Regions from separate parts of the Homo sapiens genome. Here regions 1 and 2 are each linked to region 3. The links come from fine-mapping of genetic effects on gene expression. A gene starts in region 3. Each other region holds a variant in brackets. All regions are shown on one strand. Distances are from middle to middle. Region 1 has its middle 9.5 kb from the start of PLA2G6. Region 2 overlaps PLA2G6 (phospholipase A2 group VI). Region 3 holds the start of BAIAP2L2 (BAR/IMD domain containing adaptor protein 2 like 2).

Region 1 (4,267 bases), 81 kb before region 3:
TGGGTTCACGCCATTCTCTTGCCTCAGCCTCCCAAGTAGCTGGGACTACAGGCCCCCGCCACCACGCCCGGCTAATTTTTTGTATTTTTAGTAGAGACGGGGTTTCACCGTGTTAGCCAGGATGGTCTCGATCTCCTGACCTCACGATCCACCCGCCTCAGCCTCCCAAAGTGTTGGGATTACAGGCGTGAGCCACTGCACCCGGCATTTTTGTATTTCTAGTAGAGACAGGGTTTCACCATGTTGGCCAGGCTGGTCTCGAACTCCTGACCTCAGGTGATCCACCCACCTCGGCCTCCCAAAGTGCTGGGATTACAGGCATGAGCTACTGTGCCCGGCCTATTCTTCCCCTCTTTTTGGAAACACTGTTTTCTCCTTGGTGTTTTTGTCTTTGTTTTGAGACAGGGTCTCCCTCCCTTGCCCAGGCTGGAGTGCAGTAGTGCCATCATAGCTCACTGTAACCTTGAACTCCTGGGCTCCAGCCATCCTCCCGTCTCAGCCTCCCGAATAGCTGGGGTTACAGGCATGCAGCCACATGCCTACCTCCCCTTGCCTTCTAAAGCTCAGATTTCCCTCCTATCTTTTCAGCTTTCATCCCTGGCCCTCCATCTTGGCCTCTTAATTCTTAGCGAGGCTCAGAGCTTTAGCCTTTGCCCTCTTTTCTTATTGCTGGGGAACCTTATCCCTACCTCAAGATTTCAGGTGCCACCTGATGTTGAGGACTCCCAGATCTCTATTTTGGGCTCCCAGCTGTCTCTCATGGACCAGATCTGCTTAAGCAACTGCATGGATGACATGTATTTTCCCCTGCCCTTCCCTGGCACGTCTAACTCCACGTTGTCTCAGTGGAGCTTAGCGCCACCCTCCCCACCTAATTTCTCCAACAGGTTGATGATGCCACCTCCTCCCCAGTCACCCTGGAGAGAAACCAGGCCATCATGCTCACCTCACCCTCTCCCTCCCTCCCACAGCAAACAAGTCACCAGGCTTCAGTGATCTCATCTCCTTAACTTCTCTCCAGCCTCTCTCTTCCCTCAGCCATGGCCTCTGTTCAAGCCACAGCACCTGGCTCCAGGACAATTGCAGCAGCCTTCTGCCTGGTCCCCCTGCCTCTAGCCTCCATGCAGAGGATAGAGAGAGCTTTCTAAAACCTAAACTTGGCCAGGCTACTGCTCTGCTCACAACCCTTCCATGGCTCCCCAGTGCTGTCAGGACAAAGTGTAAACTCTTTCCATAAGCCTCCTCGATCTGGCCTCTGCCTGCTTCCACCACCTCCTCTCAGCTGCAGCCACCGTGAACTCTGTCCTCATACCCATCATTCTCTTCTACTGCCTCGTGCTTTCAATCTTCCCAGTCCTTCTTCCTGGAACTCCCTCCCCGGCTTGTGCTTCAGTCCCCAGCTCAGATGCCACTTTGTTCAGCAGGCTTCCCAGATCATCCCCAGGCTGACTCAGGTTCCTGTGTACAAGGTAGGAAACCTACCAGTGTATCCCTCATGATAGCACTTTCCTCTCTGACTCGGTGTTCTGTGTCTTCATGGCTGTCTTCTCTTAACCCACATGCTTTTTGAGGACCAGGATTACATCCTTTCATTTTTGTGTCTCCAGAGCTTTGCCCGGGCCATGGCACATAGCAGAAGCATGATCAATGTTTTTCTTTCTTCTTTTCTTTTTTTCTGAGACACAGTCCTGCACTGTCACCCAGGCTGGAGTGCAGTGTCGTGATCTCGGCTCACTGCAACCTCTGCCTCCTGAGTTCACGCGATTCTCA[C/T]GCCTCAGCCGCCCAAGTAGCTGGGATGACAGGCGTGCATCGCCACGCCTGGTTAATTTTTTTTTTTGTATTTTTTATTTTAGTAGAGATGGGGTTTCACTCTGTTGGCTAGGCTGGCCTCGAACTCCTGGCCTCAATGATTTGCCTGCCTCAGCTTCCCAAAGTACTGGGATTACAGGCGTGAGCCACCATGCCCTGCCTAGGCCACCGTGCCTACGCTGGGAGCATGATGAATGTTAATGGGATGAATGGAGGAGTTGTCCTTGTTCCACTGGGCCTTGTCCTAGGCTCAAGCAAGAGGGTCAGGCTGTGGCGAGACAGGGAGGAAGGAAGAGAGTATCATTAGTTTCTAAGAACAGGGGTCCCTAACCCCTGGTCTGGGTCGATGGCCTGTTAGGAACTCGGCTGCACGGCAGGAGGTGAGCGGCGGGCGGGTGAGCGAGTGAAGCTTCATCGATATTTACAGCATATTTACAGCCGCTGCCCATTGCTCACTCACATTGCCACCTGAGCTCCACTTTCTCTCAGATCAGCGGCGGCATTGGATTCTCATAGGAGCTCAAACCCTATTGTGACTTCGCATGCGAAGGATCTAGGTTTTGCATTCCTTATGAGAATATGATGATCTGTCTGCCTGATGATCTGTCACTGTCTCCCATCACCCCCAGATGGGACCATCTAGTTGCAGGAAAACCAGCTCAGGGCTCCCACTGATTCTACATTGTGATGAGTTGTATAATTATTTCATTATGTATTACAATGTAATAATAATAGAAGTAAAATGCACAATCAATGTAATGGACTTGGATCATTCCCAAACCATCCCCCGGCTCCGTGGAAAAACTGTCTTCCACAAAACCAGTCCCTGGTGCCAAAAAGGTTGGGGACCTCGGTCCTACAATGTCCTTTGGCTCCCTGACAGTGGGGACTGTGTTTATATCACTGATTGCCCTCATGCCCTGTGTAACGCTATGGCAGGGCAGCCAAACACGGATTGATTCTCTGGAGATCCCTGCAATTCCGTTTCATTACCATTGCATCCTGGGGGCACAGTGATTCAGCCTACTCATGAATGTGTGATTTGCAGTAGAATTTCAGGAGCCCCTGGGACATAAAAGAGGATTATCAGGGCTGGGTGTGGTGGCTCACACCTGTAATACCAGGACTTTGGGAGGCCAAGGCAGGAGGATTGCTTGAGCCCAGGAGTTCAAGACCAGCTGGGGCAACATAGCAAGCCCCATCTCTACAAAAAAAATTTTTTTAAATTAACCAGGTGTGGTGGTGCTCTCCTGTGGTTCCAGCTACTTGGGAGGCTGAGGTGGGAGGATTGCTTGGGCCCAGGAAATGGAGGGTGCAGTGAGCCACGTTTGAGCCACTGCACTCCAGCCTGGGTGACAAAGCAAGACTCTGTCTCAAAAAAAAAAAAAAAAAAGGTAGGGGCTGGGCACAGTGGCTCACCCCTGTAATCCCAGCACTTTGAGAGGCTGAGGTAAGCAGATAGCTTGAGGTCAGGAGTTCAAGACCAGCCTGGCCAACATGATGAAACCCCATCTCTACTAAAAATACAAAAATTAGCTGGGCTTGGTGGTGGGCGCCTGTAATTCCAGCTACTCGGGGAGGCAGAGGCAGGAGAATCGCTCGAACCCGGGAAGTGGAGGTTGCAGAGAGCCGAGATCATGCCACTGTACTCCGGCCTCGGCGATGGAGCAAGACTCTATCTCAAAACAATAAAAAATAAATAAAAAGTATTTTGGGGTGATACACACATTCAGACCATAGAACATGCGATGATATGGAAAAATATATTTGCCTTTATATTCCAGTGCTTTTTCACAATAAACTATTATCTGTATATCTGAGACAAGTTTGTATTAAATTGTGAGCCCCAAGGACAAGAATAGAGATGTCTTTAGTGTCCCCACCATACTAAGAGTAAGGCCGGCCAGGCATGGTGGCTCATGCCAGTAATCCCAACACTTTGAAGGCCGAGGTGGGCGGATCATGAGGTCAAGAGATTGAGACCATCCTGGCCAACATGGTGAAACCCCGTCTCTACTAAAAATACAAAAATTAGCCGGGTGTGGTGGCACGCGCCTGTAGTCCCAGCTGCTCAGGAGGCTGAGGCAGGGGAATCTCTTGAACCCAGGAGGCAGAGGTTGCAATGAGCTGAGATCGCGCCACTGCACTCCAGCCTGGCAACAAAGCGAGACTTTGAGTCAAAAAGAAGAAAAGAAAAGAAAAAGAGTAAGGTCATGCACATAGCAGGTATTTCATAATTAATGGCTGACAAAACATAAATGAGGACGAGAAGCACAAGAGAAGGGACAAAGGGATTAAGAGCTTGCACACTCTGACCCTCAAGAACTCCACATTAGATTCCCCCATCGTGAGAGGCTTGGCACACACCCTGCATCTTTGCCTGAAATACCCCTGCTCAGCCTCTCCAAATCCTCATGTCCTTCGCCATCCTTCACCATCCCTCACCATCCCTAACCAT
Region 2 (4,267 bases), 42 kb before region 3:
TTTCCGCTCACTGCAAGCTCTGCCTCCCGGGTTCACACCATTCTTCTGCCTCAGCCTCCCGAGTAGCTGGGATTACAGGCGCCCGCCACCACGCCTGGCTAATTTTTTGTATTTTTAGTAGAGATGGGATTTCACCATGTTAGCCAGGATAGTCTCGATCTCCTGACCTTGTGATCCGCCTGCCTTGGCCTTCCGAAGTGCTGGGATTACAGGCGTGAGCCACTGTGCCCAGCCTGCTTGATTCTTTTAAATTATTTCAATCTCTTTGCTAAGTTTATCTGTTAGGATTCTGAATTCCTTCTCTGTGTTAGCTTGAATTTCACTGAGTTCCCTCAAAACAGCTATTTTGAATTCTCTGTCTGAAAGGTCACATATCTCTGTCTCTCCAGAATTGGCCACTGGTACCTTAATTAGTTCATTTGGTGAGGTCATGTTTTCCTGTATGGTCTTGATGCTTGTGATGTTCGTCAGTGTCTGGGCATTGAAGTTAGGTATTTATTGTAGTCTTTGCAGTCTGGGCTTGTTTGTATCTGTTCTTCTTAGGAAGACTTTCCAGGTAATAAAAGGGACTTGGGTATTGTGATCTAAGTTTTTGGTCACTGCAGCCATATCTGCATTAGGGGGCACCCCAAGCCTACTAATACTATGGCTCTTGCAGACTCGTAAAGGTACCACTTGGGTGGTCTTGGATAAGATCTGGAAGAATTCTCTGGATTACCAGGCAGAGGCTCTTGTTCTCTTCCCTTACTTTCTCCCCTAAAAGTGGAGTCTCTCTCTCTGTGCTGGGCCGCCTGGAGCTAGGAGAGGGGTGACACAGGCACCTCTGTGGCCACTATCACTAGGACTATGCTGGCTCAGACCTGAAGCCAGCACAGCACTGGGTCTCACCCAAGGCCTACAGTCTCCACTGCCTGGCTACTGCCTACGTTTGCTTAAGGCACTAGGGCTCTACAGTCAGCAGGTGGTGAAGCCAGTGAGATTATGTCCTTCCCTTCAAGGCAGCAAGTTCCCCCTACCCCCATCCTGGGAAGGTCCTTAGATGCCATCTGGGAGGCAGGGCCTGCAGTCAGAAACCTTAGTAATCTCCCCAGTGCTCTATTCTATTACAGCCTGGCTGATACCCAAGCCATAAGGCAAAGTCCTTCCTGCTCTTCCCTCCCCTTTCCACAAGCAGAGAAGTCTCTCTCCATGGCCACCACTGCCCCAGCCCTGTGGCAGTGCTGCCAGGCCACTGCCAACGTTCATTCAGGGCCTAAGGGCTCTTGAAGCAACTGAACACTGCCAGGCCTGGGACTCTCCCTTTAGGGTAGTGGGCTCCCCTCTGACCCAGGGCAGGTCCAGAACTGCCACCCCACAGCCAACACTTAGAATCTGGGACCCCAAGAGCCCTCTTGGTGCTCTGCCACACTGTAGCTGAGCTGGTACCTAGGCTGATTTTTGCTTTTTATGAAGGTACTTTTTTGTGTGTATAGTTCAATTTGGTTTTCCTCCAGGGAGGACAATTGGTGGAGGTTTCTATTTGGGCATCTTTTTTTTTTTTTTTTGAGACGGAGTTTTGCTCTTTCACCCAGGCTGGAGTGCAGTGGCGCGATCTCGGCTCACTGCAACCTCTGCCTCCTGGGTTCAAGCGATTCTCCAGCCTCAGCCTCCCCAGTAGCTGGGATTACAGGTGCCTGCCACCATGCTTGGCTACTTTTTTTTTCAATTAAAAAGTAAACTTTAATGTCGAAAATGCAAACTTGGGGAAGGCAGAAAGATCACACACAAGGCTGTCGCTTCACACTTGGAAGGTTGCACGGCGGCCAGGAGAGGC[A/G]CTCCTCACTTCCCAGACAGGGCGGGGGCCGGGCAGAGGCGCTCCTCACTTGCCAGACGGGGCGGCGGCCACATGCCTGGCTAATTTTTGTATTTTTAGTAGGGACGGGGATTCTCCGTGTTGGCCAGGCTGGTCTCAAACTCCTGACTTCAGGTGATCCACGCACCTCGGCCTCCCAAAGTGCTGGGATTACAGGCATGAGCCACCGCGCCCAGCCCTATTTGGCCATCTTGCTTTGCCTCCACCTTCATTTGATAACAGAACACCCCCATGTAACCACCACCACAATCAAGATATAAGACATTTCTGTTATTCTCCAAATTTCCTTCACCCTCCTTTATAGTCCATGGCACCCACCCCATCCCTGGGCAACACCTATGTGCTTCCTTTTTTTTTTTCCCCGCAGGAGGACGTCTTCCTATACCTATGTGCATTCCATCACTGCTGCTTTTAATCATATAGCGTGTAGTCTTATGAGTCTGACTTTTTCACTTAGCATAATGCTTTTGCAATTTGTGATTGAGCGTTTTCATATGATTCTGTTTTTTCTGTCTCTTAGCTTGGAAGTTATACACTTTTTAGTAGTAACTGTTGGGAGATCGTTCTCCAAGAGTCTCTCTCATATTTCCATACATCCTGCTAGCAGAGACATTGACTACCTGTTTTTGTCTGTTTAGTGTTGCTATAAAGGAATACCTAAGTCTGAGTATTATACATAGAAAAGAGGTTTTATTTGTCTCATGGCTCCTCAGGCCATACAAGAAACATGGTGCCAGCATCTTACCAGTGTCACATGGCAAGAAAGGAAGTGAGGAAGAGAAAATAAGTTGTTAACTGGTTGTTAAAAAGTGCCAGGCACGGGCCAGGCACAGTGGCTCGTGCCTGTAATCCCAGCACTTTGGGTGGCCAAGGCGAGTGGATCACCTGAGGTCGGGAGTTTTGAGACCAGCCTGACCAACATGGAGAAACCCTGTCTCTACTAAAAAAAATACAAAAAAATTAGCTGGGCATGGTGGTGCATGCCTGTAATCCTAGCTACTCGGGAGGCTGAGGCAGGAGAATTTCTTGAATCCAGGAGGTGGAGGTTGCAGTGAGCCAAGATCACCTGGGCGACAAGAGCGAAACTCTGTCTCAAAGAAAAAAAAAGTGCCAGGCTCTTTTTAACAACCAGTTCTTACAGGAACTAATAGAGTGAAAACTCACTCACCCCCACCCCACAGGGAGGGCATTCATTCATGAGGGATCCACCCCTATGACCCAAACACCTCCCATTAGCCCCCCACCTCCAACATTGGAATCAAAATTTAACATGAGGTTTGGGGGGCAGAAATCCAAATTATAGCACTACCTTTGTTCCAGGCTACCTTCAAAGGATGTTTATACAGCAAACAGCCTTGGAAAATAGAGTTAGGGTCTCCTTGTAGAGCACAGGGTAAGTTTGCTTACTTTTCAGCATAATCAAGATTGTGTCTTCTTCTGGAGCAAAACTTTGACAACAACAAGCGGGGCAAAGTCTGAAACCTTTTGCACATCTTGACAGAACCTTAGAGATTACGAGATTTATCTCTGCCTTACTCAAGGTCCATTAGTATCTTCCAGAACAATAAGTTGGTCTTAGAATCCTTTAGCTATGTATTCCCTTCCAGGCTTCGATGCTGTGTGCTGTTGTTTTATTTAGTTTTTATTTTAAACCCAACAAGACGCTATACCATCAATACTTATTTAGATCCCCCCACATATTTAACTTGCCATGGTGCTTCATTCTTTCATGCCTCTTTAAGCATCCATCTAGGATCGTGTTCATTCCACATGAAGAGAAAGCTTTTGGCCCAGCACGATGGCTCACACCTGTAATCCCAGCACTTTGGGAAGCCTAGGCGGGAGGATCGCTTGAGCCCAGGATTTCCAGACCAGCCTGGGCTACGTGGCAAAACCCTGTCTCTACTGAAAATACAAAAAATTAGCCAGGTGTGGTGGTTCACGTCCCTGCTACTCGGGAGGCTGAGGTGGGAGGATTACTTAAACCTGGGAGGTTGAGGCTGCAGTGAGCGTTGATTGCACCACTGCACTCCAGCGTGGGTGACAGGAGTGAGACCATGTCTCCAAAAAAAAAAAAGAAGGAAAGAAAAAGCTTTTGTATTTCCTTTCGTGTAGGTCTGCTAATGACAAAGTCTCTGGGTTTTTTGTTTGACTAGAGAAATGTTTTAATTTTAACCTTATTCTTGAAGGTTTTGTTTTTGTTTTCATTTTGTTTTGTGTGCTAAGTACAGAATTCTCATTGGCATTTATTTATTTAGAGACAGAGTCTTGCTCTGTGGCCCAGGCTAGAGTACAGTGGCACGATCTCCGCCTCCCAGGTTCAAGCGATTCTCCTCCCTCAACCTCCTGAGTAGCTGGGGCTACAGGCATGCACCACTACACCTGACTAATTTTTGTATTTTTAGTAGAGACGGG
Region 3 (4,000 bases):
GGTGTGGGCCCGGCACTCACCAAGGCTGCTTCTCACCAGTGCACGGATCCAGACGGGCGGGCTGTGGACCGGGCACGGGCCTGGTGCGAGATGGTCGGCATCCAGTACTTCAGGTGAGGGCTCAGCCGCCCCAGCCCTTGGCCCCGTGCCCTGGCGTGGTCGGACTCACCGACCTTCCCCTCCCAGCCCTAGTGTGGACTTTCCCTTCCCCAAGGGTCTGCTCTGTTCCCCAAGCCCACCCTGGTCCTAGCTGGCGTCCCCTGCCCAGCCTGAGCATCCTAGGGTGACCCCCTCCTCCCTGGCCCGAACAGATTGAACCCCCAGCTGGGGACGGACATCATGCTGGATGAGGTCAGTGACACAGTGCTGGTCAACGCCCTCTGGGAGACCGAGGTCTACATCTATGAGCACCGCGAGGAGTTCCAGAAGCTCATCCAGCTGCTGCTCTCACCCTGAGGGTCCCCAGCCTCTCACCGGCCCCAGCTGACCTCGTCCATTCAGCCCCTGCCAGGCCAAGCCCAGCCACTGCCCTCCCGGGCAGATCTGGGCCCAGGCACCTCTGAGTCCATAGACCAGGCCTGGGAGAATGCCAAGCTGCCTGCCCGAGGCTGGTCCTGAAGGCCTGTCTCCCACTAACCCCGCCTTCCAGCACTTTCTGTCATTCCAGGCTGGGAAAGTCTAGAGCCCCCTTTGGCCCCTTTCCCTGACTGTCAAGGACAACTGACTCCCCCATCAGCTCAAACATTAAGGGTACCCGGGCACAACCGTACCCCTGCCCCCAGCCCCAGCCTCCCTGAGGGCCTGCCGGGCTGCCTCTGCCCCAGCCCCCAGCAAGGGCACTCCCAGGCTTCCTGGTGGGTGCAGCCCACTCCCTCTGCCCTCTGCTCCGTTCCCTGGGGGCTGGGACTAAAGAAATGGGTGTCCCCCACCCCATCAGCTGGGAAAGCCCAGGCCGCAGGAGTGGGATGCCCGTTGGACTTTGCCCCTCACACTGGCCCAGCCCCTCACACTGCCCCACCCCGAGAACCCTCAGCTCTCAAAGGTCACTCCTGGGAGTTTCTTCTTCCCAATGGAAGTGGCTTAAGAGCCAAAACTGAAATAAATCATTTGGATTCAAGTTCACCTGTGTTGTGTGTGCAGTGGTGTGAGATCCACCTGTTCCCCTGACCCCCGGCTCCCCTCGGCCTTGACCCTTGGCCTTGACCGGACTTTTCCTTTGTACCCGGACACTCTGTTTTCCAGGATCCCTGGGCAGGGACACCTCCTCTTTCCTCTAGGCCTCCCCTAAACCGGCCCTTAGGGTATGCAGAGGCAGCTGCCAGGCCCACATACCCCCGGCAGGCCCAAGGAGGGCCACAATCTTCAACTTCATCTTGGAGGACCAGGGAGAGCCCCATTTGTCACCCAGAGAGGCCGGGGACTCCGCGTGGACAGGCAGCGCGTGTGCAGGGCCGAGGTCTGCCCAGGGCTGGGCAACTCCAGCGTTTGTGCTGCTCCTGCTCCGGCAAGTGGAGGAGCTGGGCGGGCCAGAGCGGCTGTGGGAGCCAAGCTCAGAGGGCGTGGCCCCACTGTGAGCCGCAGGCCTGAGGACAGTGAGAAGTAAAGCGGCGTTCCCCTCCAGGGGCTGCTGCTGCTGGGTCTGGCAGAGAGAGTCCTGGGGGAGGGCATCGGGCAGCGCCCGCCCAGTAAGGTGGGCAATGCCTGGTATAGGCAGGTGGGAGGGCGGGGCCCCCCAGGGTTGGGGTCCTTGAGGAGGGGGTGACCCAGGAGGGGGCTCATCCACATGGGCACTTGTATCAGCCCACAGCTCCAAGGGGTGAATAATTGAAGGGCAGGTCACACGAGCCTGCCCGGCACAGGATGCCTTCCCTGCCGGATCTGGTTACGCCCCAGATCACATTCTGACATCCCGAGTTGGTGAATAATTAAGCTGCCACTCCTCTGAGGCAGGCCTCCATCTCCAGGTCCCTCTCCGAGGCTTCCTCGCTGCCAGCTGAGTCGTGGGCACCTGAGGGACTACCTACCACTGCTCCCGGCTGTGCCATCGCCACCAGCTCCCAGCCTCCTGCTCAGACCCGGGACAGCCCCTCCATGGCCCCCGAGATGGACCAGTTCTACAGGTCCACCATGGCCATCTACAAGGTGAGCACATGGGTGGCCAAGCCAGGCCTGAGCCCCTCCTCCCAGGGCACAGAAATCAGGCCCGCTCTGGAGGACGGAGGGCCAGCCGGGGCTACAGATGTCCTGGAAAGGGAAGCCTGGAGCCAGGCTGGGCCAGGGGTGGGTACGGGGGTAAGGATCCCCGAGAGCACTCAGCCATACAGCGGGAACCCCCAACTCCCAGATGCTGGACAAGGCAGGAGGGAGCCCAAGGCCCAGGGTGGGGAGAGTTGAGTCTGGATGAGAAGGGCCTGGCTGCCCGGCCTGGGAATAAAGAAAGACCCTCCCTCTCTCTCTCTGTCTCTCCCTCTCTCTCTCTCTCTCTCTCTCTCTCTCCCTCTCTCTCTCCCTCTCTCTGTCTCTCTCTCTCTCTGTCTCTCTCTCTCTCTGTCTCTCTCTCTCTCTCTGTCTCTCCCTGTCTCTGTCTCTCTCATTTCTGAGCCCCTCAGACTTCCTACTTCACCCCCGGGGGGTTGTTGCAGCCGCCACAGACATTTATTGAGCGCCTCCTGTGTGCAGGACCCTTTCACCTGGAGGCCTCACACCACCCACCTGTGAGGTGGAAAATGACCACCCTGCTTGATAGATGAGAAAACTGAGACCAAAGAGGTTAAACAGCTCATTCAAGGTCACGGAGGGAGGAAGAGGTGCTGCTGGGATTTGAACCGAGACCCAAGTCCAAGTCCAGGCCCAAGTCCAGGCCCGTCTTCACCATCCGGGGAGCTCTCTGCCCGGCCCCAGCCCGAGGAGGCCCACACTAATCCAGCCACAGCCTTGCCCATGGGGGGCTGTTCTCGGAGGAGGGCGAGAGCTGCCCTTGCCCCGGGGGTGACTGTTGGCAGCCCCAGGCGTGTAGCCCGGCAAGGCCTGGACACAGGGCAGGGCTGAGCCGTGCCCAGTGGGGACCACAGCAGGCGGGCCAGCTTCTGCCCAGCGGGAGGAGGAGAACCTTCCAGGTGCACCATCTCGGGAGGCACCTCGGTCCCGCCAGAGCAGACGTAAGCGGGAGCTGGCTGTGAGGGGACCACAGCTTAGAACAGGACCCCAAAAGATGGGCTCTGAGGTCCCTGCAGCCAAGAGCCAGGATTCTGGGTGAGCCTAGGTTTGTAGATGGGCCCCCCAAAGTCTGGGGCTTCTCACTGGGCTGGGGGTGCCCTGTCCCTGACGCCTGGTGACTTGACTCCATCCGTGGTTCCTTCTCGCTCCCCCATCTCTACACCTTTTTCCTCCCCTGACCCTGGGGTCCAGAGCATCATGGAGCAGTTTAACCCCGCCCTGGAGAACCTGGTGTACCTGGGCAACAACTACCTGCGTGCCTTCCACGGTGAGTGCCTGCCCGGGCCACCGAGCCCCAGCCCTGGGCCTCTGCTGTTCCCACCCACCCAGGCCCCTCCCAGATTCTCTGCATCCCACACCTGTTCATCCTCAACCCTACACCCTCCTACCCACCACCCTCACCCTCACACCTCTGCAGCCAGAGAGGCCTTATGCACCCCCACTCTCCTGTGCCCACGCACCCCAGTCCACACCCAGCACCCCTCATTGCCCCCTCCTTCAGGTGCCTCCAGACACTCCCATGATGCAGTACCAGGCCCTGCAGGCCCACACAGCCCCAGGGCAGCCCCTGACAGTGCATACATTTCTAGGCGTCACCTGGATGCCACCAGCTGAACCCACCCCTATACTCAGTCCCACCTCTGCACCCAGGCTCACACAGCAGCTGGCTTCCTCACTTCAACTGGCCACCACCCACACACCCTGCAGCTGGCCTTGACATTCACTCGGTCCCCGTGCAAACCCTTGTACCCGTCCGCTGTGGCCGCTCATACCTGCCAATAGC

What was found. PIP is the estimated chance that this variant, and not a neighbour inherited with it, causes the effect.
Region 1: its variant is the best candidate, but not a certain one, in a credible set for the expression of BAIAP2L2 in subcutaneous fat (GTEx, PIP 0.50).
Region 2: its variant is the best candidate, but not a certain one, in a credible set for the expression of BAIAP2L2 in whole blood (INTERVAL, PIP 0.51).

What each region holds. Positions count from the first base shown.
Region 1 is chr22:38,189,235-38,193,501 of GRCh38, reverse strand. No RefSeq gene overlaps it. Among named protein-coding and RNA genes, the nearest start is that of PLA2G6, 9.5 kb to the right of the region's middle. The variant C/T (reference allele first, on the strand shown) is at 1,771.
Region 2 is chr22:38,150,913-38,155,179 of GRCh38, reverse strand. All of the region lies in intron 2 of PLA2G6 (phospholipase A2 group VI), which reads left to right. Among named protein-coding and RNA genes, the nearest start is that of PLA2G6, 29 kb to the left of the region's middle. The variant A/G (reference allele first, on the strand shown) is at 1,814.
Region 3 is chr22:38,108,617-38,112,616 of GRCh38, reverse strand. It overlaps BAIAP2L2 (BAR/IMD domain containing adaptor protein 2 like 2), which reads left to right and starts at 1,933. Exons shown (of 14, transcript NM_025045.6): 1 at 1,933-2,142; 2 at 3,409-3,484. The coding sequence starts at 2,092. It overlaps PLA2G6 (phospholipase A2 group VI), which reads left to right. Exons shown (of 17, transcript NM_003560.4): 16 at 40-113; 17 at 312-1,122. The coding sequence ends at 456.